7 linked regions of the Homo sapiens genome follow. The protein of the gene in region 1 purifies or fractionates together with the protein of each later gene. This does not show direct contact. Each region holds a gene or a part of one and is shown on either strand. Other genes may lie near its edges.

The links.
Region 2: the proteins of CAMKK2 (region 1) and ESYT2 purify together in Homo sapiens (affinity purification with mass spectrometry; one large-scale study listed by BioGRID and IntAct). This does not show direct contact.
Region 3: the proteins of CAMKK2 (region 1) and FEZF1 purify together in Homo sapiens (affinity purification with mass spectrometry; one large-scale study listed by BioGRID and IntAct). This does not show direct contact.
Region 4: the proteins of CAMKK2 (region 1) and ATG4B purify together in Homo sapiens (affinity purification with mass spectrometry; one large-scale study listed by BioGRID and IntAct). This does not show direct contact.
Region 5: the proteins of CAMKK2 (region 1) and IREB2 purify together in Homo sapiens (affinity purification with mass spectrometry; one large-scale study listed by BioGRID and IntAct). This does not show direct contact.
Region 6: the proteins of CAMKK2 (region 1) and GCN1 purify together in Homo sapiens (affinity purification with mass spectrometry; one large-scale study listed by BioGRID and IntAct). This does not show direct contact.
Region 7: the proteins of CAMKK2 (region 1) and XPOT purify together in Homo sapiens (affinity purification with mass spectrometry; one large-scale study listed by BioGRID and IntAct). This does not show direct contact.

The regions. Positions count from the first base shown.
Region 1 is NC_000012.12:121,240,819-121,244,895, reverse strand, and holds part of CAMKK2 (calcium/calmodulin-dependent protein kinase kinase 2), read left to right. Parts: intron 1-280; coding exon 281-323; intron 324-766; coding exon of another isoform or gene 767-772; exon of another isoform or gene 773-1,308; intron 1,309-4,026; coding exon 4,027-4,077. UniProt on the Homo sapiens protein: Calcium/calmodulin-dependent protein kinase belonging to a proposed calcium-triggered signaling cascade involved in a number of cellular processes. Isoform 1, isoform 2 and isoform 3 phosphorylate CAMK1 and CAMK4. Isoform 3 phosphorylates CAMK1D.
Region 2 is NC_000007.14:158,759,880-158,763,956, forward strand, and holds part of ESYT2 (extended synaptotagmin-2), read right to left. Parts: intron 3,287-4,077; coding exon 3,204-3,286; intron 1,666-3,203; coding exon 1,617-1,665; intron 269-1,616; coding exon 179-268; intron 1-178. UniProt on the Homo sapiens protein: Tethers the endoplasmic reticulum to the cell membrane and promotes the formation of appositions between the endoplasmic reticulum and the cell membrane. Binds glycerophospholipids in a barrel-like domain and may play a role in cellular lipid transport.
Region 3 is NC_000007.14:122,301,579-122,306,117, forward strand, and holds the start of FEZF1 (fez family zinc finger protein 1), read right to left. Parts: upstream 3,173-4,539; 5' UTR 2,860-3,172; coding exon 2,059-2,859; intron 1,734-2,058; coding exon 1,599-1,733; intron 1,354-1,598; coding exon 1,221-1,353; intron 778-1,220; coding exon 419-777; 3' UTR 1-418. UniProt on the Homo sapiens protein: Transcription repressor. Involved in the axonal projection and proper termination of olfactory sensory neurons (OSN). Plays a role in rostro-caudal patterning of the diencephalon and in prethalamic formation.
Region 4 is NC_000002.12:241,647,116-241,651,192, reverse strand, and holds part of ATG4B (cysteine protease ATG4B), read right to left. Parts: intron 184-4,077; coding exon 82-183; intron 1-81. UniProt on the Homo sapiens protein: Cysteine protease that plays a key role in autophagy by mediating both proteolytic activation and delipidation of ATG8 family proteins. Required for canonical autophagy (macroautophagy), non-canonical autophagy as well as for mitophagy.
Region 5 is NC_000015.10:78,497,089-78,500,034, reverse strand, and holds part of IREB2 (iron-responsive element-binding protein 2), read right to left. Parts: intron 2,910-2,946; coding exon 2,724-2,909; intron 2,003-2,723; coding exon 1,892-2,002; 3' UTR 1-1,891. UniProt on the Homo sapiens protein: RNA-binding protein that binds to iron-responsive elements (IRES), which are stem-loop structures found in the 5'-UTR of ferritin, and delta aminolevulinic acid synthase mRNAs, and in the 3'-UTR of transferrin receptor mRNA.
Region 6 is NC_000012.12:120,184,581-120,188,657, reverse strand, and holds part of GCN1 (stalled ribosome sensor GCN1), read left to right. Parts: intron 1-3,770; coding exon 3,771-3,834; intron 3,835-4,077. UniProt on the Homo sapiens protein: Ribosome collision sensor that plays a key role in the RNF14-RNF25 translation quality control pathway, a pathway that takes place when a ribosome has stalled during translation, and which promotes ubiquitination and degradation of translation factors on stalled ribosomes.
Region 7 is NC_000012.12:64,442,247-64,446,323, reverse strand, and holds part of XPOT (exportin-T), read right to left. Parts: intron 1,250-4,077; coding exon 1,193-1,249; intron 1-1,192. UniProt on the Homo sapiens protein: Mediates the nuclear export of aminoacylated tRNAs. In the nucleus binds to tRNA and to the GTPase Ran in its active GTP-bound form. Docking of this trimeric complex to the nuclear pore complex (NPC) is mediated through binding to nucleoporins.

The sequences.
Region 1 (4,077 bases):
GCTCTTGGTCAGTCAGAAGAAAAGCACTTTTGTGGCCCGGGACCGTGAGTGCCTGATGGGGAGGTTTGAGGCTCTGTGCTGGGCGAGCAGTGTGGTCTCACTCAGGACCCTGTGTGTCCATGCAGAGAGGTGTCCACTCATCTGCTGTCAACGCCACCCTGGCTCCAGCTCTATGAAGCTGGTGTTTGGGGTCTGAGTGTCTCAGGGTGGGGGAACGGGCATCCCGTGGATCCCAAGGGTCCCTTCTCACTTCCCTTTTCCCTCCCTCTGGTGATTCCAGCAAAAAACCAACCAGGGAATGTGAGTCCCTGTCTGAGCTCAAGGTAACGCCCGCCTGCCTGTGCCGTAGCCTCTGCTGGGGCCTGAGGGGGGCGGGTGGGCAGCTGCAGAGCACGGGGGCATCCCCACCCGGGCAGATGCTCCTTCCAGCCTGGGCTGCTGTGGCCCGGCTCACCGCGGGCCTCCAGACCCAGTATTAGAATGAGGGGCCTCGGGGGCTTGGACCCAATGGTGGGTCATGCATGTGGGCTGGGGCTGCGGGTGCATGGCGCTCCAGCTGGAATGCCTGAGAATGCACCCAGGTCTGAAGATCCTGTGTGGCACCCATGTCTTCTCAGTGCACGTCAATGGTGTTGAAGCTCTGTCACAGGGCCCATGGGTGCCCCCCCGAGTCCGCATGGTCAGCACATAGGTCAGGCATGCTGCACTGTGTGGCTCTTCGCTAGGGGCTCTCCAGCCTCCACTTCTCTTTCTTTGATGTGTTTAGACCTAGAAAATAAGTCCCCTTCCTGCCTGTTGCAAAGTAACGTAAGAGTTCCCTCACCCGAGTGGATGCAGACCTTCTTGCTGTCAGCCACCCTTCCTTCATACACATAGCCAGCCCAGGTGACCAGAACCTCCCAGGACAGATGAGGCTTTGTGTCCTTATGAGACTGGGAGAACCTGCTGGGCACCCCTGCTGCAGGTGCTGTGGTGGGTGGGGACCCCACTGCCCTTCCCACTGAGCACATCATGGCTACCTGACTTGGTGGGAGCTCCAGGCAGTCACTTCTGTTTCTTAAACATAGCTTTACTGAGGTACAATTCACATACCATGTAATTCACCCACGGGAAGTGTATGATTCAGTGGTTTCTAATACAGACTTCTGCAGCCATTACCACCGTCAACTTTACGACATTTTCATCAGCCCAAGAAGACACCCTACACTCCTTAGCTGTCCCCATCCAACTCCCCCACCCCAGTAACCACTCAGAATAGGTATGGATTTGCCTATTCTGGACGTTTCGTATAAATGGCGTCATACACTACGTGGCCTTCTGTGTCTGGCTTCTTTCTCTCAGCATCATGTTTTCAAGGTTCATCCATGCTCTACATGTATTAGTGCTTCATTCCTTTTCATGGCCAAATAAGATTCCATTGTTTGGATGCACCTCACTTTGTTCATCCATTCCTCTGTGGATGGACTTGTCTCCACCTTTTGGCTATCGAATGAAGACTGATGCTATGAACATTTGTGTACAAAGTGTTAGGAGTTGGCTTACGAGATGAAATGGATTGACTAGCAGGCTGGATGCAGTGGCTCACGCCTGTAATCCCAGCACTTTGGGAGGCCGAGGCAGGTGGATCATGAGGTCAGGAGTTTGAGACCAGCCTGGCCAATATGGTGAAACCCCGTCTCTACTAAAAATACAAATATTAGCCGGGCATGGTGGCGCACACTTGTAGTCCCAGCTACTCGGGAGGTGAGGCAGGAGAATCACTTGAACCCAGGAGGTGGAGGTTGCGGTGAGCTGAGATCACGTCATTGCACTCCAGCCTGGGCAACAAGAGCAAAAATCTGTCTCAAAAAAAAAGGCTGGGCGCGGTGGCTCACGCCTGTAATCCCAGCGCTTTGGGAGGCCAAGGCAGGCGAATGACGAGGTCAGGAGATCGAGACCATCCTGGCTAACACAGTGAAACCCCGTCTCTACTAAAAATACAAAAAATTAGCCGGGCGCGGTGGCGGGCGCCTGTAGTCCCAGCTACTCGGGAGGCTGAGGCAGGAGAATGGCGTGAACCCGGGAGGCGGAGCTTGCAGTGAGCCGAGATTGCGCCACAGCACTCCAGCCTGGGCGACAGAGCGAGACTCCGTCTCAAAAAAAAAAGAAAAGAAAAAGAAATGGATTGGCCACCCATCCCGTGGGAGTCAGGGCTTATATGGTAATCTAGGAGGAACACCTGTTTGGGAATTATTTATGCTTTTGAGAGAAACCTTGCCCTCCAGCATAGAGCAGGGAAAATGGCAGTCCTTCAGAACCGGTCTTCAGCAGTCTCAGAAGGCAGACACAGTCCCCAGCTTGTGCCCAGACAGACGCCTGGGCAGCCCCGCCTTGGGTGTGAGCCTCACGGATGATGGAGTGGAAACCCAGCGGGCTGGCCTTTCCTCGGCCTTCCTCCTCTCAATCTCCATTTTAGGGTTTGCCAAACCGGGGCTGCCTCCTGTCTCTGAGCAAGTCTGCTGTTGGTTTCTTTCCTATTTTCTTTCTTTCTTTCTTTCTTTCTTTTTTTTTTTTGAGACAGGGTCTTGCACTGTTGCCCAGGTTGGAGTGTTGGAGTGTAGTGGTGTGATCTCGGCTCACTGCAACCTCTGCCTCCTAGGCTCAAGCGATTCTCCTGCCTCAGCTTCCTGAGTAGCTGGGTTTACAGACATGTGCCACCATGCCCAGCTAATTTTTGTATTTTTTTAGTAGAGATGGGGGTTTCACCATGTTGGCCAGGCTGGTCTTGAACTCCTGACCTCGGGTGATCTGCCTGCCTCAGCCTCCCAAAGTACTGGGATTACAGGCATGAGCCACTGTGCCCGGCCTTCGTTTCAATGAGATCAAAATTGCAAGACACCAGCAGATGGAGACTGGCCCCAAAGGGCTATGCTGCCCCTTCCTTTCTTCACCTGGGATCCCCTGCCCTCAGCCCCCAGCAGGTAGGATGCCTTGGTCATGGGAGCTCACAGAGCTGATTCAGGCACTGGGGGTCTTGGACTGGGGGCCTGCCTGCCGTCTGCAGTAAGACCCAACCCCTACCAACAGGCAACTGCGAGGGCAGAGACTGAGGGCCTGACCTAACGTCTAGTTACAGCGCCCCCCTCCCCAGGGACCTTACCCACATTCTCCATCAGAAACATAGCAAGCCAGACATCACGCTTCCTTTCCCTTGTGTAAGGACAGTCTCCCTCCTGGACAGGAGACACGGATTGTTGTGGGGGAAGGACAGACAGTAACCCATGTGGCATGCCCAGTGACCTCCCTAAGAACAGGGGAGCTGTGTGATGGTGGTGAGGGGATAGGCTCGGGGATTCCCCTCGCACCTGTCACGCCATCCACGCTGTCACACCGGCGGCTCCAGCCTGGGCTCTTCAGGGAAACAAGGGCTCTCCTCCTCCCACTTCCAAGAGGGAAGGGGCCTCCTCTTCTGTCTGAGGTGCTCCTCCCTCAGGGCTGGCTGCAGGAGGGCTGAGGCGGGAGGATCCCTGGAGCAGTTGTCATCTGCCCTTTCTTGAGGGCCAGCTGTGTGCCAGGCCAGGCAGGGGAGGCTCTGATCACCCCCACACACAAGGAACTCAACATCTGGTGACTGAGGACAAGCGTCACAGTCCCTTCCCTGTAAGGGCTCATAGCCTAAGTGGGGGATCGAAGTACCTAAAAACCTGGTATGACAGGCGCCGTGGGGTGGGGGGTGCCTTCTACTTGGGATTTGTGCAGTGAATTTTGGTGTTACATAGTTTTGGAACTGTTGTACGGGTCCTTGCTATTTTTGGCAAATGATGCTGGTCTTTCATTTACAGAGGGGCTGCGTGCAAAGTCTCCTTTGAAAAATTTATGTGAGCAAGGAAAAGGGGAGAGGATCTCAAAGACTGGGTTACGTAGATCACGTTCCAGGGGGTGCGCGACGGCCCACTTGGGCAGGGGGCCCAGATGTGGGAGCAGCTGGCTCAGGGCCTCGCTGGCATTTCTCAGAGTCTTAATGTTGGTTTTCTGTTCGGTGAGCAGGAAGCAAGGCAGCGAAGACAACCTCCAGGGCACCGACCCGCCCCCCGTGGG
Region 2 (4,077 bases), on another chromosome or scaffold:
TTAAAAACTCCATTATCTTTAATTTATCCCTGATGCTACTGTAGTGACTTATTACACAATAATGAAAATTACTGCTATAATTGTTAAAAAATCAAGTAGCAACACAACTGAGAGACCAAGCTCAGTTATGAGGAGTAGTTGGTTAGGTAGTTTTCAAGAGCACATGCTTCAACAGCACCTTGTCGAGGTTTGACGCATTTGGCATTAACGTGAGCCACTCCAGTCTCAAGTGTAGCTTCCCCTTGGGAACCTCGTCCAGAGTGAACCACTGAAGAGAAAAAATGTTTACGTTCAGCAAAAGTTCTTCTGAATCAAAAATCCAAATTAAACCCAGTCTCTACAAATGTTCCATGCTGCTCACTAACCACGAGGCATCAACAGTTCTCAGTAACGCGAAGGCTGAGCCTCACCATATCCAGCTCTACGCTATGTGGATGCCAGTGACCTCACGTTTGGAGGCGATGGCAGCAACAGGTGTGAGCGACCATTCTAAGTGCTTTACACACACCAACCCCGTGACCCCGACAGAAACCCTAAGCAAGTACTAGTATCATTCCCACTTTACACATAAGAATTCAAATGTTTTCTAGCACTACCTAGAGACAGTAAAGTCTTCTATGAATAGACTTCTTTTTTTTGAGATAGGGGTCTTGCTGTGTTGCCCAGGCTGGGCTCAAGCGATCCTCCTGCCTCAGCCTCCCCAGCAGCTGGGACCACAGGTGTAGGCAAGCATGCTCCACCAAATGGCCTTTAACGGAATGTACAGGGTAAGAGGTAATACAACATTGATTCCAAATACTGAATTTCAGTATCAAACGATTTAATCTGTTTGTTCTAATTCATCACTCTATACTAATAAAATAGTATACAGTTGTATCAGCTTAAAAGTCACAAAATAATTAATCAAAGATGCTCCTCAAATGCTAAATGATAGAAGCCATGGGCAGGACTGTCCATCCAGTGCCTGGCACACCCAGGAAAACGAGATGTCACAGCCAATGAATGCTGAACACTCAAGGGAAGGAAACGTGTGATTACGAAAGCAGCAGAATTCAACACTTTTGTTTAATTTTGCTTCATTTATCTAAATCTTACCCTTCTTTTAGAAGCCACCACAAATGTTTCCTTTTTGATACTTTTTATTCTGATAGCAATAAAATGGTGGAAGTCGAGTCTCCTTGCCATGAGTTCCCACTGTCTCTACAGGCATCTCTCACGTGAGATGCCTCACTGGCCGCACTGTGCCTTCTCCACCATTCCCTCCAAACACCTGAAAATCTCCATCACTAGGGGGCATCTCGCACAGCCCTGCCCTTACTCCTGCAGGGGATCGCATATTTGTCTGCAATAACGTCAGTTTATGCTTCATATCCGTAAGGATTCCCAGCATATGGTAGGGACTCAACACGCACCTGAATGGACTCTTAAATTTATTTTTCATTTGCTATTTCTAAAAGGCCTAAATTCTTAGTATATGTTAAGTAAATGTTGTTCATGCCATACTAATTAGGATTCCGGCACTGTGTGATGGTGAAGGGGTGGTTCGTGGCTCCTCTGGCACAGGGCAGGGACTCAGTCAACAATTGTAAACAGACCCACACTCCAGGGAAACTTACTTCATCTAAAAGGCGCTCCTTTTCAACTTCAATGAGGTCAATCATAAGACTATAAAAATAACAATACGACAACTTTAGAACATAGAAACACATTTCTTACTGAAACAACTTTAAAACATAGAAAACACATTTCTTCCTGAAACAACCTTAAGCATTTGTCTATGAACAAGCACTCCAGAAATGCAACAAAACGCTAATAATTTATCAAGGAACAGACTATTTTTCCACAAGCTTCCTCCAGCTCACCCCCAGTGTCAGGAGAGTAAGGAAGAGTGAGGTGGAGTTTCTGTGAGCTCAGAATACTGAGTTTGGCCCAGCTGAGGTTAGAGCTGTAAAACAAAAACAAAAACAACTCATCTTCCCTACAATGTTACATGCATCAAAAAATGTTTGAAAGCATCTCAACCCTCTTATTTTACACGTCCTCTTGGAACGTCTTATTTTATACGTTCACTCACAACTCCAGTAGGGTTGTGCGTTACTGTGGATTCCTCACTCGCACAGTGAACGCTAACCTCACGTTCCCCCACCCTTGCTCCCAGGCTCTAGACCCATGCTGCATTGAGCCCGATGGACGCCCTCACTCGGTGCATCTGAGAGGAGGCCCATTCCCGTTCCCCTAAACCTCCCGTACTTCCAAGATTGGCACCACCCCCAGACGCCAGATACAACTAGATGGGATGATTATACTCCCACTTCTTCTTGTAGCCTCTTCTGCCCCCCACAATCTATGTCTACACCGCCTTCTCTCTGTCCTGGTCTATGACACACTCTCCTATTTGGTCTGCCAGTCTCTAAGCTCAGCCCCCGACAATCCAATCCACACAGTGATTTTCCTAGAATGAGCACCTGATCTATCCTGTCTGGCTTAAAATCTCTCAATTGTTCCTAGTTGTCCTGGGAAGTCTCATGAACTCTCAAGTCAGGCCACAACGTGCAAGGGCCATTCTTGATGAGGTATGAACCTCTCCAATGTATTCTATCCCTACATCTTTTTTGCCACAATTTAATTCAGTCAAATAACTTAATTAGGTTAAATTAATCAGAAATAATTGATATTAACAAATGGTGGTCAAACAATAACCATTTTAAAAGTTTATTTTTAAAGCTATACTAGTTGTTCAATTGAAGTGAACAAACCAGTATTTATTTTCCCAATGTGAATTACTATATCCTGACAAAAATTAATCCAGCAACTCAAAAAACTTAAAAAACCCATTTTTGCAATCTGGAATAGAACTGTCCACTAGAACTCAATACGGCGGCAGGTTCTGCATGTAGCTTTAAGCCTTGTAAACAAAGAGAGTGCCACTCAGATAGTTTTTAATTTATTTAACTTTAATTAACTTAAGGCTAGTGCCTGCTGTAATAGACAGCACAGATCTAGAAGACTCACTTCTCTTAAATGTGAAACTTTTAGGAATAAAAATGTTTTAAGAAATCCAAGGTGAAACAATTGTTATATCTAAGAACCATTTAATGAATAGACAACAAGTATACAAATGTATTTTAAAACATACTTTTGATTATTAAACAAAAAGACTGACCCCATGCCCTCCTCCAATAACCACAATGGGCTTTATTTACCTTCCTAAAAAGTCATCCTTGTCTGGGTCTTCATCAAAGAGCTCAATCTCTAATTCTTGTCCAGGATGTTCATACACTAAAGCCTAAAACATCAATGGTTAGTAGTTAAGTGCATTTTTACTAATATAGTCATACACTGAGTATGATATGATGATTGTAGTAAATATGACCAGGTACTTTTCTCTGGTGGTAAATCCTTATTTATTTATTTATTTATTTATTTATTTCTGGAGATGGAGTCTCGCTCTATCTCCCAGGTTGGAGTGCAGTGGCACAATCTTGGCTCACTGCAACCTCCGCCTCCTGGGTTCAAGCGATTCTCCTGCCTCAGCCTCCCAAGTAGCTGGGATTACAGGCATGTGCCACCATGCCCGGCTAATTTCTGTATTTTTAGTAGAGATGGGGTTTCACCATGTTGGCCAGGCTGGTCTCAAACTCCTGACCTTAAATGATCCACCCACCTCGGCCTCCCAAAGCGTTGGGATTACCAGTGTGAGCCACCGCACCCAGCCAGTAAATTCTTTTAGGACACTTATTTTTTTATTGTCAAGTCACACACACCTCTTGAGGACGGGAGGTCACTGAAACACCTGCCACACAGTAACAGTCTACCGTGCTTGTTTCTAGGGATCCTGGATTGCGTCTCAATAGATCAAGTTCAATCACTCCAACAAGGTCATGATACGTCACCCACAAGCTTGGTGCAAGGCATGAGACAGACCAAAGATCCAGGACACATCCCTCTAGTCCTGAAGTGGCTCCACTCAGATGCTATCTTGGAATAACCACGAGTTATCTGCTTAGCACCACTCAGGGTAAGAAACTGGCAAGAGACCAGACTCACAAAGGAGTGGGGGAGAGGAGTCGTACGGTG
Region 3 (4,539 bases), on another chromosome or scaffold:
GGAAATATATACAATAATAAAATTAAAATGATGCAGCATTCCCGGGTAGAATAATACAGATCTCAATAAATATAGCAGAAATTTGTTTAAACAAAACAAAACAAAATAAACACCATCTCTCCACCCAAGATGAAAAGTCTTTCCAAATTAAAAAAAAAGAAAAAGAAAAACAGAAAACAAGCAAAACCCTCCAAATTTTTCATAATTGTTAGTGCCTATATAGAATATAATACACAAAACCATTTAGCAGGTGCATGCAAGAGGCGAAAGGCCAGGGGATGCAGAGGCTTCTGGTCGGCCCTGAAGTGTGGGGCCCAACATGCCCTGGGGTCTGCAGACGAACTCGGACCAGGAGCTCTAGTCTGCCGCTGCCTCAGCGTGGGGGCACGGCTGAGGCTGGGAGGACCCTTAGCCTCGATCACTGGTGGCCCTGGTGGAGCCCGGGCTGCAGGGGCCCCGGGGTTGGCAGCGGCGGCTGCAGAGGAGGCAGCGTCATCGGCGGCTGCTGCGGTAGCGGGGGCGGCGGTTCAGTGCCTGGTTCGCCAGCTGGCGTGCGGGCCAGCCCCAGGCTGCTGTCGTGCAGCTTGCGGACATGCTTCTTGAGGTCAAAGTTCCTGCAGAAACCCTTGCCGCACGTGGGGCAGGTGAAAGGCTTCTTGTCGTTGTGGGTGTGCATGTGGAAGGTGAGGTTGTAAACCTGGTGGAAAGCCTTGTTGCAGATATTGCACTTGAACTGCTTCTCCCCGCTGTGGGTCAACTTGTGGTTTTTGTAATTCCCTGAAACACACAAATGACAGGAATATGGTTCTGAAAAAAAAAATAGCTTAAAAAGGGAGGAGCAGACACGTGGAAGGTAGCGCCAGGCAAGCAGAAGAGCCGCCACAGGTCCCACAACAAGTGCAGGGCTACTATCTGTGCCTGCACTTGTCTCCCCAAGTTTATTTTCAAGCATCGCATCAACAGTGATGCCGTTTCCTTAAATTTTAATACACATTTATCAGTCCAATTACATACAATGAGAGCATGCAGTTAAAACATATACCCTTGTTTTATGAATCATGCTTTTCTCTAATACTAATCAGACTTCGAGTAGGGAGTTAGAATGGCAACAAAAGTGCCACATAACTACACTTTAAACATCGTCTTCTAAAACATCCCGAAAGTATTAAGTATGGCTTTTCATAAGACTAACCATGAGAGACATTTCCTGGTTTGCATACCTTTTTGATGAAACCCTTTGCCACAGAATTCACACACAAACGGTTTGTAGCCCGCGTGTATTCGGGTATGAGTGTTTAAAGTGGAACTTCTATTAAATGCTTTGCCACACTGGTTACATTTGTGAGGTTTTTCCTAAGCAGGAGAAAGGAAAAGCAGAGACATTTAGATATTTTCTAATTATGTGAAGTTCTGCAAGCTCAAAACACAGTAATGCTTAAACACTTTCAAGCAGAACAAAAGCAAACAATACATGGCATTCACCCTGTTTAGCTAGCACTTTTTAAATGAACGTTATCCTAAAGAGTAAGGTTTTATCGGCTGTTTTTCTGCAAACAGTTCGGAAGCAAACTAGGTGAAATTGAGACAGATGAACACACCTGCGTGTGAATGATCTTGTGCCTGCACAGGGTGCTTGCTTGCCTGAAACCTTTTCCGCACACTTTGCAAACGAAGGGTCTGGCTCCTGTGTGCACTGGCATGTGACGGGTTAAGTTATAGTGCGCATTAAAGACCTTAAAATTAAACACACGTAGAACAGGTTAGCCGCACAAGTAACTTTGAAATCAAACCGGGCAGAGAGAGGGTAGGAGGAAGAGAATCTTAACAAAAAGTGTATGCAAATAATTACCCCCAAAATACTAAAAAGGGAGGAAGGAAAGGAGGAGCGAGGGAGGGAAGGAAGGAAGGAAGGAAGGAAGGAAGGAAGGAAGGAAGGAAGGAAGGAAGGAAGGAAGGAAGGAGGGAGGGAAGGAAGGAGGGAAGGAGGGAGGGAGGGAGGGAAGGAAGGAAGGAAGGAAGGGAGGGAAGGAAAGGATCTCCGTTTTGCATTGTACTTGCCTTTCCACACACTTCGCAAGTGAAAACTTTGGGCTTGGCATTAGGAGAGCCTCGGCTGAAATCCGAGGTTTTGAACGCGATTTTTTCCGACAGAAGCTGGGCGCTTTCTTTCATGTAATGCTGCAGCTGAGCCTGGGACAGGTCTTTGAAAGCTACTCCAGAAGGGTATTTCTCCACCGCCGGGACCACCAGTTTATTCCTTTCGGCTAAATACGTTTTTGGCTGCGGGTGCAAAGGGGAACTGAGGAAGTAGGAGGCCACCGGGTGGATGTTCACGCCGGCTGCCGGGTGGCATGGGCCGTCACCTCGGTTCAGGTAGCACAAGGCGCCCATGGCGTGGAATGAAGAGTGGTTGACCACACGCGGCCTTACCAGCTTGTACTGCTGCAGCGGCAGCGCGTCGCGGGCCAGGTCGCCCTTGAGACTCAGTGCGCAGTTGAGCAGGTCGCTGCAGCTGAATGCGGGAGCCGAGGGCACCGCCGCGGGCGCCGCCGGGGCCTCCAGACTGGCCTTCCGCGGCTCGGAGCCCGTCACTCCTGCCTTGGGGCTCGTGTCGTAGGCCACAGGCACGAAGGGGATCATGCAGGGGATCGACGAGTTGAGATGCAGAGAGTGCTTGGGTTCCCCCTTGGGTAAGGCTCCCTGCAGGAAGTGGGGGACTGGCAGGGCCTTGGGCTCTGGGGTGCGCGCCATGATTCGTTCAATGGAGAAAGCCAAGGGTTTGGACGTGCTCATCATGTTGCCCCGAGCTGGAGCAGTCGCTAACATTTTGGTAGTCGCGTTGTGGCAGCTACTGTCCATGTCTGAGTCGCCAGCGTCCGTCAGCCGGGGCTGGGTTGCGCCGTCCGTTGCCTTGTTCCCTGCTTGTCACAGACCTGCGGAGAGGGGGACGGGCACCATCACCACCAGTAGCCTCCTCCTCCTCCTCCTCCCCAGCATCACCAGCCGAACCTGCCTGCCCAGCCCAATGGACTCCTGCCAGCCCATCGCAGAGTTCTTGGCGCACCAATGACTCGGGGACAATCACTACTTATTTCTATCAATAGAAAGTGTTGTGTCAATAACGCAGCCAAGATCTCGCCAATCGTTAACTTCCAAGAGGAGAAGGTAAACTAGATAATTGCTCAATTCGCTTCCAACAGTCAACAGGAAAACTTTTTTTTTTTTCATCTGCAGTCAGTAACTACTTTTCATTGGTGAGTGAGGTTCCCCGCCCAGAAAAGGCGGGGGCGCTTTCACCCGCTTGGCGCGCCCTCCCCTCTGCGCACACACTCTGCCGCGCACACTTCACTACCCTCCGCACCCCCCCATCCCCACCCCCCTTTTGCTTCCTCTGCCTTTCTAATTCTCAATCTGCTTAACCAGGCTTTAGAGGCCAAGCAAATCTGAGATCAATTTTCTCGTTTAGCTCTAAGTGACATCATCTAAAATCATTGTGCAAGGGCTAAATAAGGAAACGGAGTCTAATTCAGGGGCAAACGCCAGGCTATATTTATCAAACGCCAAGCTCCAGAAAGCCTCGGCTAGGAAGCCTCGGCAGTGAAATCCGAGGTTTCGCTGCTTGGTTCCACTGGGCCTGGGTGGGCCGGGCTGGGCCGGGCTGGGCCGGGTCAGATCTGTGCCACCTCCGCAGACCTATTTCTTCCTCCAGGGCTCGGGGTTGCCCGCTCCCGGAATCCCGGAGTCTCCGCGGCCCGAACCGAGTCTGGACCATTTAGAAGACGCCGGCAGGTAACTGGCCTCCCCAAACGCCCCGAAAATTAAAAGCCTTAGGAGGCTTGTTCTGTGTTTGTGGTTTTGTAAAGGCAATGCCCGCGGCAATAGGCCTGGGAAAGTCGCACTTTCATCCACAAAGTTGAGGAGTTGCAAGGAATAATTGGGTGTCACACCACAAGCAACCTTGACTCGATCGGACCCCACCCAGGATACACACAGACGCGCGCGCGCGCACGCTTCCGAGTTTCCATTGAGAGTCTGGAAAGAGCATTTCTTTCTTAAGTACCTGCGCTCAGCTAGAGCTCTCCCGGAGCATTTTAAATACTGAATGCCGAGCGGAGAAGGGAAACAGAGTGTATTAATCCCCACTCCGGTTGCCGGTGTCTGCAAGCCTCCTCTAAGCAGCGCAGGCGGCAGCCTGGATGTCTGTGCGCATCAAGGAGACTTGCCGGCGCCAGAGTTGTGTCCACAGGTGCACTTGTGCCTCCCAAAGAGCGCGCGTAGAGACCATTTCCCCTGCAACGCCCCCCAGCCGAACACCCGCCGGGTGTGGCACCTCGGCCGAAACTCCTGGGGCGGCGCGGTGGAGCGTGTGGAGGTTTCCGGGAAGACGCCTACGGCTGCGGCTCCGACTGTGCGGGCTCCCGCCGCCCAGGCAAGAGCGTCCAGGAGCGCGCTGGAAGCTGCGGCGCGCACCTTCCCCGGCGCAGTCTCTTGCCAGCCGGCGATCACGCAGAGCTGAACCCCGCAGCTAGGCGCGCAGGA
Region 4 (4,077 bases), on another chromosome or scaffold:
GAGTTAGCAGAGAACAGTGATCACAAAATGCTTCTGCAGGCCAAGCGGTCAGACCAGGGTGGGCTCCAGCATGGCCGATACCTGTGAAAATGCTGTATTTTCTACCCAGTATCCAAACGGGCTCTGAGGTCTCAGGAAAATCTTCAAACTCAGCAAACCGGAGAGTGTCGTAGGTCAGAGTAGCTGTTGAAACCAAAGATGCACAATCATCAGACACTTATAATTTCATAAACTAGTATCGAAAGAGGCCATTTACAGCATTTCTGTGCTGAAGAGAACAACTGTAAATTCTTGTAACAGCAGCACTCCCTCTCGTATCTCGGGCCTACCAAGACACCCACCATGGATGGAGTAAACTCTTAGGAAAGAGAAGGAGGCCCTGCTGGGCAGCTGCTCTGCTAAGGTATGGGGACAGGGAGGTGGGGCCAGCATGCTACTTCCTGAGCCTTTCATATTCTGAGCCACTGAGTCAGTGTCTAACAGCTGACACGAGGGTGAGAGGCCAAGTTAGGGGCCAACCTGAGGGGTGAGAAAGCAAAAAAATGAAAACCCACCCGATTCAAGCACTTACTTTAGACTTAAAAAGTAAAGGACAAAAATAAAGTTAAACCACCTCCTTCATCCTTGTACGCAAGGGAAGCCAAGAAGAAACAGGGCAAAGAGTCGTTTTCCATGGCCATCCTAAGGTTTACCAGATGTCACCATGGCAGCGTGTTCAGAGTCACTGTGATGAAGGCAGATGCTCCGGGGCAAGAAACACTGAGCTGCTGGGAAGACTGGGGTTCTGGTCTACCCCAATTTCCTGGTTAGGAGCAGGTGCTGGAGAAGCATGGGGTGCTACTCTCAGGTAGAAAGTTAACCCCTGGACACTGAGAGATCAAACTCTCTGCCAAGTCCCCAGAGGTACCCGGGTACAAAAAGCCTAGTGATCAAGGACTGAACCTGTTTTCATTTCAACAATGCTACCAGAAGAGCATGCCACCACTTCCATGGGGCAACACCCCACTTTCTAAGGAGGCAGCTGGCTGCAGAGCCATGGTGCTTACCTGCTGGGCTAATGATTAGCCCTGCATGCCATCTTACTCTGTTTTACTTCAATTAAGAAACTAGGCCAGGCACAGTGGCTCATGCCTGTGATCCCAGCACTCTGGGAGGCCGAGGTGGGCAGATCACCTGAGGCCAGGAGTTTGAGACCAGCCTGGTCAACATGGTGAAACTCCGTCTCTACTAAAAGTACAACAATTAGCCAGGCGTGGTGGCGGGCGCCTGTAATCCCAGCTACTAGGGAGACTGAGCCAAGAGAATCACTTGAACCCAGAAGGTGGAGGTTGCAGTGAGCTGAGATTGTGCCACTGCACTCCAGCCTGGGTGACAAGAGTGAAACTCCATCTCAAAAAAAAAAAAAAAAGAAAAAGAAAAGAAAAAGAAAAAAAAGAAAGAAAGAAACTAGAGAGGCCCAGGGTCTTCCTGTCCACAGAACTGTGGCTGAGGATACCCATGTCCCACAATGTTCCTGAAAAGAAGGCGCCAGCCAGCAGCAATGCACCAGCCCAAACACCCATGTGGCGAGATGCCCATTGCGTATTCTGGGGCGGCACCAGAGGCATCTCTCTCCAGCTGCTCTTCAGGGAACTGGGAACACACAATTCCCATCTGCTGCCTCTCCAGCTCTGATGGTGTCTGATCACTCATCCTTCACCAGCAACTTTACAGCAATCTTTTGAAAATCAATCACATATGAATTTCTCCCACATCTAAATTTACTTTTTGATAACAACCCCACACTTCAATAAGAATGACATATGCTAATCATAAAAAATTCTGAAGACTACAAAAATACACAAATCACGTGAAGCCTCGTTGCCCAGCAATGACTCTTTCCAGAAGTCTTTATGCACAGGTTCGTACGTGAAATCATACTATGCCTGTGGTTTCCTCAGCATTCTACATAAACACAGATCTCCACCTAAGCTGATACTAAAAAGCATCGTGTGTGAACTTCTGTGCTGTGCACAATCCCCTTGGGGAGGCAGGGGGCAGTCAGAATTTAAAGCCCAGCTTGGGTACTGGTAAACTGTAGTTTCCTGGGCCACTCACTTAACTTCTAAGTGTGAATGTTCCCTCATCCATAAAATGGGATAACAACAGGACAGCCTCAGCATATGGGTGTGACGTTTCAATGAAACACTTCCAATGAGGTGCTGGCTGGCAGACAGAAGGGCTGCAATGTCCGCTCTGTCATTAACATCGAGGACTCAGAACCACAGGGTCAAAGGCACACAAATTTTACTATACCCAAAAGCCTTAATTGTATGCGCAGCTAATTCCCAAACACAGGGTTCAGAAGCACCTGCAAGCATCTCCCTCGGTGCAGGCAGAACTACCAAATCCACAATAGAGGGCCCTACAGGCACTGTTTAAAGGATTCTCAGCTGTGGGAGACCCAGGCCCCTCTCTGCCCCTTTCCTAGAGTAGTGCTGTGGCTTCCTGAGCAAGATGACGGGCGTTGTGGAGCGGCTGCAGCCAGATGAAGCAAGCTTTCCACAGCAGGGCTTTGTCCAAGAGCTCTGCTCCTGTTTTTTTTTCTTTTTTTTTTTTGAGACCGGGACTCATTTTGTCACCCAGGCTGGAGTACAGTGGTGTAATCACAGCTTACTGCAGCCTCAAACTCCCAGGCTCAATCAATTCTCCGGTCTCAGCCTCCTGAGCAGCTGAGACTACAGGCATGTGCCACCACACCCAGCTAATTCTTGTATTTTTTGTAGAGATGAGGTCTAATCATGTTGTCAAGCTGGTCTCAAACTCCTAGGCTCAAGCAATCCACCTGCCTTAGCCTCCCGAAGGCTGGGATTACAGGCATGAGCCACTGCACCTGGCCCCCAAGAGCTCTGCTCTTACATATTTCACTTGTCCATGCTTTCAGAGACATTATCAACCAAACTGCTTGGTGACTGTGAATAAATAAAGTCCAAGTTTACATTCTCTCCTGCCTTTTTATATATATGTTACTTGTTTCTGCACATGATTACAAAAACTGAATTAGGATGAATTAAGGTCCATGCCTTTTTTTTATTCTTTTGTGATGGAGTCTCACTCTGTTGCCCAGGCTGAAGTGCAGTGGCATGATCTTGGCTCCCTGCAACCTCCACCTTCCGGGTTCAAGAAATTCTCCTGCCTCATCCTCCCGAGTAGCTGGGATTACAGACATCTGCCACCATGCCCGGCTAATTTTTGTATTTTTAGTAGAGACAGGGTTTCACTGTGTTAGCCAGGCTGGTCTCGATCTCCTGACCTCAAGTGATCCACCCACCTCGGCCTCCCAAAGTGCTGGGATTACAGGCGTGAGCCACAGCATCCGGCCCACTCCTATCTTTTTAAAGAGCTGAAAAACATCATGATGTCCCTGCTACCTCTCTAAAGCCACTCCTGAATCTTCAGAAGTCCCTACTATTCTTTGACCTGTAGGCTTTATTCAATATATAGACTAAAATCCAGAAAACTTATTCTCAAGGAAAAAGGATGAAAACACCACCGGTCTAATTTCTTTTCTTTTTTTTTTTTTTTTTTTTTGAGACGGAGTCTCACTCTGTCGCCCACCAGGCTGGAGTGCAGTAGCGCGATCTCGGCTCACTGCAAGCTCTGCCTCCCGGCTCATGCCATTCTCCTGCCTCAGCCTCCTGAGTAGCTGGGACTACAAGCGCCCGCCACCACGCCTGGCTAATTTTTTGTATTTTTTTTAGTAGAGACGGGGTTTCACTGTGTTAGCCAGGATGGTCTCAATCTCCTGACCTCATGATCCTCCCGCCTCGGCCTCCCAAAGTGCTGGGATTACAGGCGTGAGCCACTGCGCCTGGCCACCACCGGTCTAATTTCAACACTGCAAGACAATGATTCCATCTTGCTGTTGGAACATTCTTCTCATGTTTGACACCGTTCCAAGGCACCAGCTTTGAACTAAAGATACACATATCTTTTATTTAAAGTACAGCAGAGCTAAATGAACACTGGCAAGTATCTCTTTGTAGACTACAGATGTTCCTTAATTAGGATGGGATTATGTCCAATAAACCCATTGTA
Region 5 (2,946 bases), on another chromosome or scaffold:
CTAAAACTACAAAAATTAGCTGGGCGTGGTGGTGCATGCTTGTAGTCCCAGCTACTCAGGAGGCTGAGGCAGGAGAATCCCCTGAACCCGGGAGGCGGAGGTTGCAGTGAGCCAAGATCGCGCCATTGCACTCCAGCCCAGCCACAGGGCAAGACTCCGTCTCAAAAAACAAAACAAAACAAAATAGATTTGTTTCCCCCTGCACAATCTGGAATTACCATTTCTTCAGAGCACATACAGGCATTTCATCTTTCAACCTGTAATTTCTCCTAACTCATGTTTTCATGTAAATTAAAAACACATGCACTAACAAATAAATATACAGCATATATCAAGAACACAATATAATTTGAAAGTGTCGAAGAAAATACTTATACAAAATTTAAATAAAGAAATCATTTTGTCGAACTCTAGTCCATCTTATTGTCTAAACACATATTTGCAAAATATTTTCAAAAGATTGTATGATTATGTGCAAAGTTCTTAGTGGTCTTCATCCACTGGTTTGGTAGTTTCAGCATTTTGCTTACAACAAGTAATTCTTTATGCAATGTGAACTAATTCTGAATTGCAGTAACTAACTAGGTCATAGAAAGATATCTATGTGAAAAAAAATCACTACAATTAACCTTTAGCCTGCTAGACTTAGTTTCTTAATTAAAAAAACAGTATAGAACCTTCTATAATTAATTTTCCAACCTTTTTAAAAAAAATTACCAAACATCTTGTTGACAGAACATTTGATGTGATGGGCAGACATGCATATTGAGGATATATAGTACTCAGCAACAACTTAAGTGTTTTATCCTTACGGTCAGCTTTGGTTAAAACAGTAACATAACAAAATTAATAGAATCATGCATCGCAGGTGATAAATGATTCAAAATGACAGGAAATCAATTTAATTAAGAAATAGCAACACTTAAAAAATGCATAGGGTTGAGCACCCGTATTATTGAGGGTGGATAATTTAAATGTATAGAAGAAATCAGTTCAGAGTTTAATGATTGAATAACATTCTCTTTAGCAACTATGAGTGTGAAATTTTGGTTAATGATACCGAAAATATTAGGTTATAGGAAGTTACAGTATTACATAAGGTGAGCAAAATAATCTAATCCAATTAATATAACGCCATCTGGGGGCTTGCCAGACAGTCACAGTGGCAAACTGCTGAAATATGAAAGGCTGCATCATATGTGATACATATTCCCACTGCTAATACATGGTGCCACACAATCAGTTGTATCCTGCCATGGTCCATCTTCATATGTGGAGGGAACCTTGGCTGGATTGGACAGAATGATTGTGACCTGGGGCAGGTTCCATCCCTTGCAGTTAGACTAAGGATAAACCTGGTTATATGACAAACTAAGAATGCCAAATGTGTCCAGCTCAATTCTGAAGAGGAATTAATATACTTAAAAGGTCCATTTATAAATGAGATTCCAATGGCCACAATTTTAGAGTCTAATCTGGCTTCTTATATTTCAATCTGCTACTCTTAAACCAACAAACAGTAGTACACAGTTTTATTGGTGCAAAACTAAACAAATCCAGGAAGGTTATTCATATAAGAATCTTCAACACAAATTCTGCCTTTATTTACAAAATGGTCTGATAAAATATCGCCCCCCCCCCATACTTACAGGTCTCTTCCACAACACACTTCACACGTTGATTTTAGCAATATTAATAGCACCATTCGTATATTATTTAAAATCAAGAAGATTTCATTTCAGTTACTATGTTGATTCATCATCATTTACATCCATGGATGAGATAAGTGAGTATACTGGGACTATCTGCTGCTCCATGGTAAGGATTCCTGGGTCCAGCACAAAAGGCTTTGCAGTTACCAGTTATGAAAGGTATCTATGGTAAGTAGATACTATGAGAATTTTCGTGCCACAAAGTTTAATAATCCTCCATGTTTGTATAATGTTATTTCCACATCATCTTCAAACGAAGCAATCACGCTGAATACTTTTCCAGTGCTTGTCTTGAAAGGAGCAAAAACATCTCATGTGAGCAAGTAAATCTTCCAGGTGCTACTTGATGGTTAAGACCATTTGTCTTCATATTTAATGACTATACTTGCCACAGATTCTGTCTGATTTATCTTGGTTCTAATTTCTTATATTCTGATTGCCTGAAACTTTGCTGCTGCTTGAAAAACACCTGAGATACCTGACCATGGGCTTCATAGTTAAGTAGAAAAATAGCTGCATTTAGATTTTGACTTATTAATTGGGGAAGTTATACTCACTACTCACATTCATTTTACACCAAATATTGATTGCATGTAATCAGTAACTCCTACTCTTTCCCCTTTTTTCTTAGTTGTAAAGTCTGTTTTGCTCTAACTTTGAACGCTCAACTTTGCTCTCTTTGGAGTGGTATGTATGCCTCGGTTAAAATTAGATCAGGACAGCAAAAAAATGACCACCATGAAAAGAAAGCTGACACTTGTTAAGTGGAAGTCAAGATTCCCCTTCATGTGTTCTTTTTTTCTGGTATAAGCACCCAGTTCTTTCCACTTTTCCTCAGAGAACATGAACTATTAACATAGCTAGATCTAAGTATGGAAGAGAGAGTCATCTTAAATGGCAACTTAACATTCATTAAGTGACATTAGTATATAATTTACAGCAATTGATTCTTATTCAATAATTCATAAACATTTGAGTGCATAATCATATATTTGAAAAATTTAGAGATACCTGTATATTCAATGTAATTCCAGGAGACAGTTCTTCAGGAAATGTTAAAGAAAATGTTTCTCTACCGGAGAGGCCCAAGGAATCTGCATTTTCTCCTGGAAGGAACTGAAGTGGAGCTATGCCAATTCCAATCAAATGATCTTTGTGTATTTTTTCATAACTTTCGGCCAAAACAGCTTTCACACCCTGTAATAAATGTGCATTTTATTCCCTCTAATCACTT
Region 6 (4,077 bases), 1.1 Mb from region 1:
CAGGATGGTCTCGATCTCCTGACCTTGTGATCCTCCCAAAGTGCTGGAATTACAGGTGTGAGCCACCGCGCCCAGCCAAAAACATTTTTTTTATGACTTGGGATATCATTTTTCCCAATCTGTGTTCCGTGGAAGTCAGCACCATGGTAGTAGGTGATTGGCCAATAAAGGATTCCAAGATCAAATAAGTTGGGAGAGGTTTTTTTTTTTTTTTTTTCTTTGGTGAGACAGAGTCTCCCTCTGTCACCCAGGCTGGAGTGCTGTGGCGCGACCTCTGCTCACTGCAACCTCCGCCTCCCGGGTTCAAGTGATTCTCCTGCCTCAGCCTCCCAAGTAGCTGGGATTACAGGCACCTGCTACCACGCCCAGCTAATATTTGTATTTTTAGTAGAGATGGGGTTTCACCATGTTGGCCAGTCTGGTCTTGAACTCCTGATCTCAGGTTATCCGCCTGCCTTGGCCTCCCAAAGTGCTGGGATTACAGGCGTCAGCCACCATGCCCAGCCTAGAGGTCATGTTTTTGATGTCCTCTTGGAATATTCGCAACAAGGTGTTTTCACTTTATTAAGCTTCCTTGGATTCAGTGTTTTCTTTGAACCTCTTTTTTGCTGAAAATCTGTTGAGGGTCTGGGGAACACATTTTGGGAAATGCTGAGCATATCTGATTATCCTGATCTGCACCATAACCAAGGGATAGCTCTATGACTTATTAGAGTAAGACCATTTTGCCTTCACTCAATAAATTCTAGTTTTTTGTTTTTTTTTTTTTTCATTTCTTTTGGTATGTTTGTTTTTACCGTATAGCATTGGCTCTCAAAGTGTGGTCCCTGGACAGGCAGCATCAGCATCATCTTGGAACTTGTTAGAGATAAAAATTCTCAGCTCCATTGGAGCAACTCAAATCGGAAATCCTGGAGGTGCTGTAGCCCCAGCTACTTGGGAGGTTGAGAGGTGGGAGGATCGCTTGAGCCCAGGAGGTTGAGGCTGCAGTGGTCCATGATTGTGCTACTGCTTTCCAGCCTGGGTGACAGAGTGAGACCCTGTGTCAAAAAAAAAAGTTTGGGCACAGAACCCAGCATTTGTGTTTTAACGAGTCCTTTAGGTGATTCCTATGTTTACTAAAGTTTGAAAACCATGGCCATGGCTGGGCTTGGTGGCTCACACCTGGAATCCCAGCACTTTAGGAGGCCGAGGAGGATGGATCACCTGAGGTCAGGAGTTCAAGACCAGCCTGGCCAACATGGTGAAACCCCGTGTCAACTAAAAATACAAAAAAATTAGCTGGGTGTGGTGGTGGGCACCTGTAATCCCAGCTACTTTGGGAGGCAGAGGCAGGAGAATCGCTTGAACCTGGGAGGCGGAGGTTGCAGTGAGCTGAGATTGCGCCATTGCACTCCAGCCTGGGTAACAAGAACGAAACTCTGTCTCAAAAAAAAAAAAAAAAGAAAATCATGGCCATATAGATTGGGTCTCCCTTTCTGTCCACTTTTACTTCCTATTTCTACCACTTCACCCAACTTCTCATTTGCTGCTTCTGACCTGCTTATGCCTAGTAAGATACCCAAGCTTGTAAACTTGCTATTTGTGAGCGTCTCAGAGAGTCTCTTGTGTGTTAATGCTTCAATGTATGAGTTTTATGGCATCCTCGACGGTTTTTCTGGTCACTTTCCCAGCAGAGCCCTCTAGTTAGAAAAGGCAGCCATGTGATACCGATCTTTCCAGTCACAGGCCTCTAGTGCAGCAGTCAGTGATGAAGGGCTCAGATGGGCTGTGCCACTTACAGGCTGTGTGACCTGCTTCAAGTTACTTCACCTCTCTGAGCCTGTTTCTTTGCTTTGAACATGGAGATAGCAGTAGTACTTCCCTGATAGGTTGGAGTAAATGTAACGCATTGTCTGGGTATGGTAAGCTCACAGTGTGTGTTAGCTGTTATTGTCATTGTCTTAGCCACAACCTGTTTCTGGCCCCAGTCATTCTTTTTCCCCAGTTACTGAAATAGCCCCAAATCACATGGACCAATGCAGTGGTCAGGGCCCTGGGGAAACTGCGTCCCTGTACCTCATTCATTTCTCTTCCATCATTCAGGTGCCTGAAGTGTGAGGAATGGTATGGGCCTCCTGCTCTCAGGTTCTTCCTACACCCAGTATAAGTCTGTCTTACACTGCAGGTTAAATTTCCTCCTCCTCAGAAGCTCCTCCCTTTTGTTTGCGTGCTTCACTGTGTCATGCAGCACTTGTCACAGGTTGGCTTTCCAACATTATTGAGCACTCTTTTTTTTTTTTTGAGATGGAGTCTCGCTCTGTCTCCTGGGCTGGAGTGCAGTGGCGCCATCTCTGCTCACTGCAACCTCCACTTTCTGGGTTCAAGCGATTCTCTTTGCAGCCTCAATCTCCCAGGCTTAGGTGATCCTCCCACCTTAGCCTCCTGAGTAACTGGGATTACAGACACGTGCCACCATGCCCAGGTAATTTTTGTATTTTTAGGAGAGACGGGGTTTCACCGTGTTGGCCAGGCTGGTCTTGAACTCCTGACCTGACCTCAAGTTATCCTCCCACCTTGGCCTCCCAAAGTGCTGGGATTACAGGCGTGAGCCACTGCCCCCAGCCATATTGAGCACTCTTGTTCAACCAAGAGTTGAACTCTTTCTGCCCAGAGTTAGAGTGTATCTGTTTCACTCCAGAGTTAGGGTGTATCTGTTTCACTCTGACTGGCTGGCTTGGTTTCCCATTACTTGGTTTCTTCATTTAAAAATGGGCTTAATCCGGGTGCGATGGCTCACGCCTGTAATCCTAGCACTTTGGGAGGCTGAGGCAGGTGGATCACAAGGTCACAAGTTTGAGACCAGCATGGCCAACGTGGTGAAACCCTGTCTCTACTAAAAATACAAAAATTAACTGGGCGTGGTGGTGCGCACCTTTAGTCTCAGCTACTCATGTGGCTGAGGCAGGAGAATCACTTGAACCTGGGAGGCGGAGGTTGCGGTGAGCCGAGATCGCACTACTGCACTCCAGCCGGGGCGATAGAGTGAGACTCCGTCTGAAAAATAAAAGGCGGGGGGGCCTTAATAACACTGCCCACCTTACATGGATTAAATGAGTGAATGTGTATGAATGATCTAGAGCAGGGTCTGGCATCTTGTAAGCACTAAGAGCTAGGGTGTTATTAGTCCTCTCTTCTTCTTCATGTGTTCTGAATAGGTATTATGCCTTCTTAACCCTGCACTCTACATGTATCTCCCTCTCTTTCCATTTTTCCAGAGCCTACTAATCTGATAGGCCAAGCTTATGTGTCCTTCAGACTTTCAGAAACACTCCAGTTATAGGTGTTCTTCCCTTTTCTGGTCCCTCATAGTACTTCAGTGTTGCACTGTTTTTTAAACCGTTTATTAGAATGTATGTGAAGAAAGGTACGCCTCCTAATGGAACAGCTCACTGAATCATCACATGTTAAACACCAGTATAACCAGCACCCAGATCAAGAAGTAGAACCATTCCAGCACTCCTGAACCTCCTCTTGATGGCATGTGAGGTTTCGAGGCCACTTTTATTTTCTTAGTTTCGTTCATTTAGCAAATGTCTACCCAAAGCTTTTCTGTACCAGGCATTTTCCTAGAGTCCTGTTTTGTTGTTGCTTTTTCCTCTTGGGGAGGAAGGTCTTAAATATATGGGGAGTGTCCAGTGGGCTGAGATCATGTCTGGGCAGAATACCTGACTCCAGCGGCTTACCAAGTGATTTTTATTGACCGCTGTCTGTGTAATCTCTGGTTTCAGATCTTCCAGAGGGAGCAGTGAAGGGGCTCTGCAAATTGTTCTGCTTGACTCTGCATCGATATAGGTGAGTCCCAGCCAAAGGCCCCATATGTGGAGCACTTTGTACAGAGAGGGGATTTAGAGTAGTGGTTAGAGCCCAGATTAGAGCCAGACTGCCTGGTGCCAAATCTGGGCTATGTCACATCCTAGCCATTAGATCCTGGGCAAGTTACTTAACCTCTCTGTGCCTCAGTTTCCTTGTCTGCAGAATGGGGATGGTGCCATTCTCTATCTCATGGGTGGTTGTTAGTAAGCGTGAGGTGCCTGG
Region 7 (4,077 bases), about 57 Mb from region 1:
TAATGTCATCACTGAAGAGAAGTTGGGCCCAGAAGGAAGACTTTTTATAAATGCTATGCAGATAAATAACCACATCTGGAGAACAAGCCTTCTATAGGGTACCTAGATCTACTGTTACAGACACCTCTAACAGATAGTGAGGACTGAGTCCTTAAATTCAGTTTGACTGATCAGTTATTTAACAGGGGTTACTCCTGTAGGCACTTTGCTTTTTTATGGGAGGATGGCGAAGGGGAGGGTTCCCAATGATAAACAAAAACAAGCCCTCAATATTCTTCCACAAAAACTCTGAGATGTTTAAGCTGACAAACTACAACTAAGAAAAAACTGACAAGGGAAGATGTTAGAACCACAGTCAAAGGATGGCACACTTAAATTATTTACTGCGCAAAGCCCTCTGACTTACAAATTCTACTGAATGTCTTTGCTAAAAGAACCAGGTGATACACTAAGTTACCTGCTACTGAATTTAATACAGTGCTTTGTCTTCAAATTATTTGAGTGAAGATAATAAAAAATAATTCACCTTGTCACACTGTAACTTTATTTCTAGATCATGAGCTCCTTATGGGGAGGGAAAATTACTCATAGTTGTATTTGCAGCCATTACTGTAGTACTTGGTACATAAAAAGCAGTCATTATGTATGAAATGAATGACTACCTAGGTAAGACCAAGACAGTTTCATCTCATGAACTCAATTATAACTATGAATACCAAATAAACACGTGACACTTTTTGTTGATTTACAGAGTTAAAAAAAAAAATCAGTAATTTCGTAAATGTAAAAGGAGGCTTGATGGCCCAAATCTGAGGATTCTCCTTTTTGTCTGTTTTACAGTTCAAATGTTTCAAAATAGGATATAAGCAAATATCTCATCCTTCTGTTTTTATATTTTTAGCCCCTTCTTTTCAACTTAATTTGGACAACTGTTCTTGAACATTTCTTATTCTCCTAATCCCTCTAGTTTCTATTTAATTACATCATGAAACTGTAAAAGAAAACTGGCATTTTCTCACCAATATACTCAAAGGTGTACACATTCAGTGTGCTTACCTAACTTATACTCTTTTTCAAGAGCTTAGTTAAAAGGGACTTCACATAAACATCTATAATTGCAGGTATGTATTCTCTCTTGGCTCTCAAACATTACCTAATTGTATGAAGATACGTGAGCTTCACAAATACCTACCTTTAAGTAATTTTTAAAAACTTTAGCATCAGGCTGCTGAAGCGCTTGACAAAACTCCTGGGGGGTGGGGAAAAGAGGGAGAAAAAGAACAAATGTATTTGTATTAAATCCATTGTAATTCGTATCCAGTTTTTTTTTTTTAATTTTTTTTTTTTTTTTAAGAGATGGTCTTGCTCTGTCATCTAGGCTGGAGTACAGTGGTGTGATCATAGCTCACTGTAGCCTCCAACTCCTAGGCTCAAGGGACACTCCCACCTCAGCCTCCCAAGAAGCTGGAATTACAGGCATAAGTCACTGTGCCCAGCTCTTTTTTTAAAAAAGCTGTAGTTAAAAACACTTAAAACTTATCACCTTAACCACTTTTACATGTACAGTACAGTAAGCATTAACTACATGCACACTGTTGTACAACAGGTTTCTAGAACTTTTGCATCTTGCAAAACAAGCTTGCTTTTTGCCTCTTAACTGAAGAACTCCCCATTTTCCCCTACTCCAGCCCCTGGCAACCACCACTTTCTGCTTTGGTGAGTCTACTTTAGATATCTCAAACAAATGGAATCATAGAGCATTGTCTTTTAATAACTGCCTTATTTCATTTAGCATAATGTCCTCTAGGTTCATCCACATTATAGCATATGACAGGATTATTTTATAAATCAGGCTTAATATTCTATTGTATGTATATACCATATTTTGTTTATCCATTTATCTGTCAAAGGAATTTAAGGTTGCTTCAAATTCATGGTATTTAACTTATCAAGATTAATTCAAACAGTATCTCACCACAAGAGGTTTATAGCATTTTCAAATGTCAGTACTTGTCAAACAGGCTGCTTTCACTTTTGAGAACATAGCTCTCCTAGACAAGGTGGATTCATGCCTGAGAGGAGTGAATGGGACAAAAACTACATTGCTACGGCTGCTCACATCTAGTAAGAGGGATAACCAAACAGAGCTAGACCAAAAGAAAAGAAAATTCTAATAGAGAATATTGTGCAAAATGTGTTGTCAGACATAAGGCATATGAAAAAGGGAAAACTGAGGTTCCTTATCTTTCATAATGAATTACTAAATAGAAAAATAATTTTATTTCATTTAGCAATCTGGAAGATTAGCTGTAAACTGAATGGTCTAAGTTCTACTTTTGATGAGCACTAAGATCACAAGAATAGTAATTTATTATTTTCATTAAAATATGAGTTTATTTACATATCAAATGATAACCAAGAAAGTCATTAATATCTCTAAAGGTGGTATACTGTGAAATAAGAGATCACAAATTCATTAAAAATGAGTTAAATTCATTTTTTAAACTCATGTGAAATCTTTATTTTTGAAAAAAACAGCATTATAAAAACTTCAAAAAAACACCATTGAGGCTGGGCACAGTGGCTCATGCCTGTAATCCCAGCACTTTGGGAGGTCAAAGTGGCCGGATCACTTGAGGTCTGGAGTTCAAGACCAGCCTAGCCAACATGGTGGAACCCCATCTCTGCCAAAAATACAAAAACTAGCCAGGTGTGGTGGCATGCGCCTGTAGTCCCAGCTACTTGGGAGGTTGAGGTGGAAGAATTGCTTAAACCCGGGAGGCAGAGGTTGCGGTGAGCCAAGATCGCACCACTGCACACTAGCCTGGGCGACAGTGGATGACCCTGTCTCAAAATAAAAATAAAAAACAAAAAAACACCATTGAAAGCTGTGTTCATGGACTGAAGACTTAATATTGTTAAAATGTCTTTGCTACCCAAAGCAATCTGCCGAGAAGTGATGTCTGCTGTTCTCTTACCTCTCTTTGGTGTTTGACTGCCACCACCTATGAAGGGGCCCTTACCCTTCTGCAATACCCAGACCAGGGTGATGTAGTAGTGTTCAGGGACTTGGTGAAGGTCATAAGAGTGAATTATAACACACATGGGGAGCTGGGTGACAGTGGCAGGAAATTTGTATTTTTCAACATACCTCAAATCCAAAAACAAAAAAAACCCTTGGATCGGGCACGGTGGCTCACGCCTGTAATCCCAGCACTTTGGGAAGCCGAGGTGGGTGGATCACGAGGTCAGGAGTTCAAGACTAGCCTGGCCAAGATGGTGAAACCCTGTCTCTACTAAAAATACAAAAATTAGCTAGGTGCAGTGGCGGGTGCCTGTAATCCCAGCTACTCGGGAGGCTGAGGCAGGAGAATCGCTTGAACCCGGGAGGCAGAGGTTGCAATGAGCCGAGATCGCGCCACTGCACTCTAGCCTGGGTGACAGAGCAAGACTAGAGCAAGACTCCATCTCAAACAAACAAAAAACCCTTGGATGCAGATCATGATGTTTAAGAACACAATACCATTACCCTTCCTACAATTCTATTTATATTATGAAGAGCAGGTCCTGGTGGATATAGAAATCAAGATGAATAAGGAGATTATGGAACACATCAAAAAAATCGTGGGGAAGAATGAGGACACAAGAAAGGAGAGCAGGAGAAAAAGCAGCTCTCTCACCCAGCTCATTTTGGCCTTCAAAGTAGTTCTGATGGGAATCTACCTGTGAAGTTAAAGGGCAGGTGCCCTATCCAGGCCTAATGGCATTAGGAGACGACAGGGAAGTACAAAGCAACACTGAAAGCCAGTGCCTAGCAGTAAGGTCCAAGGACACTATGGGCTAGGGTAATTGATATGGGGTTACCTTGGTCACAGAAAAGCCCCTGGTTCTGGACAGGTGTGGTGGCTCACGCCTGTAATCCCAGCACTTTGGGAGGCCGAGGCCAGTGGATAACTTGAGGTCAGGAGTTCAAGACCAGCCTGGCCAATGTGGTGACCCCGTCTCTACTAAAAATACAAAAATTAGGCATGGTGGTGGGCACCTGTAATCCTAACTACTTGGGAGGCTGAGGCCGGA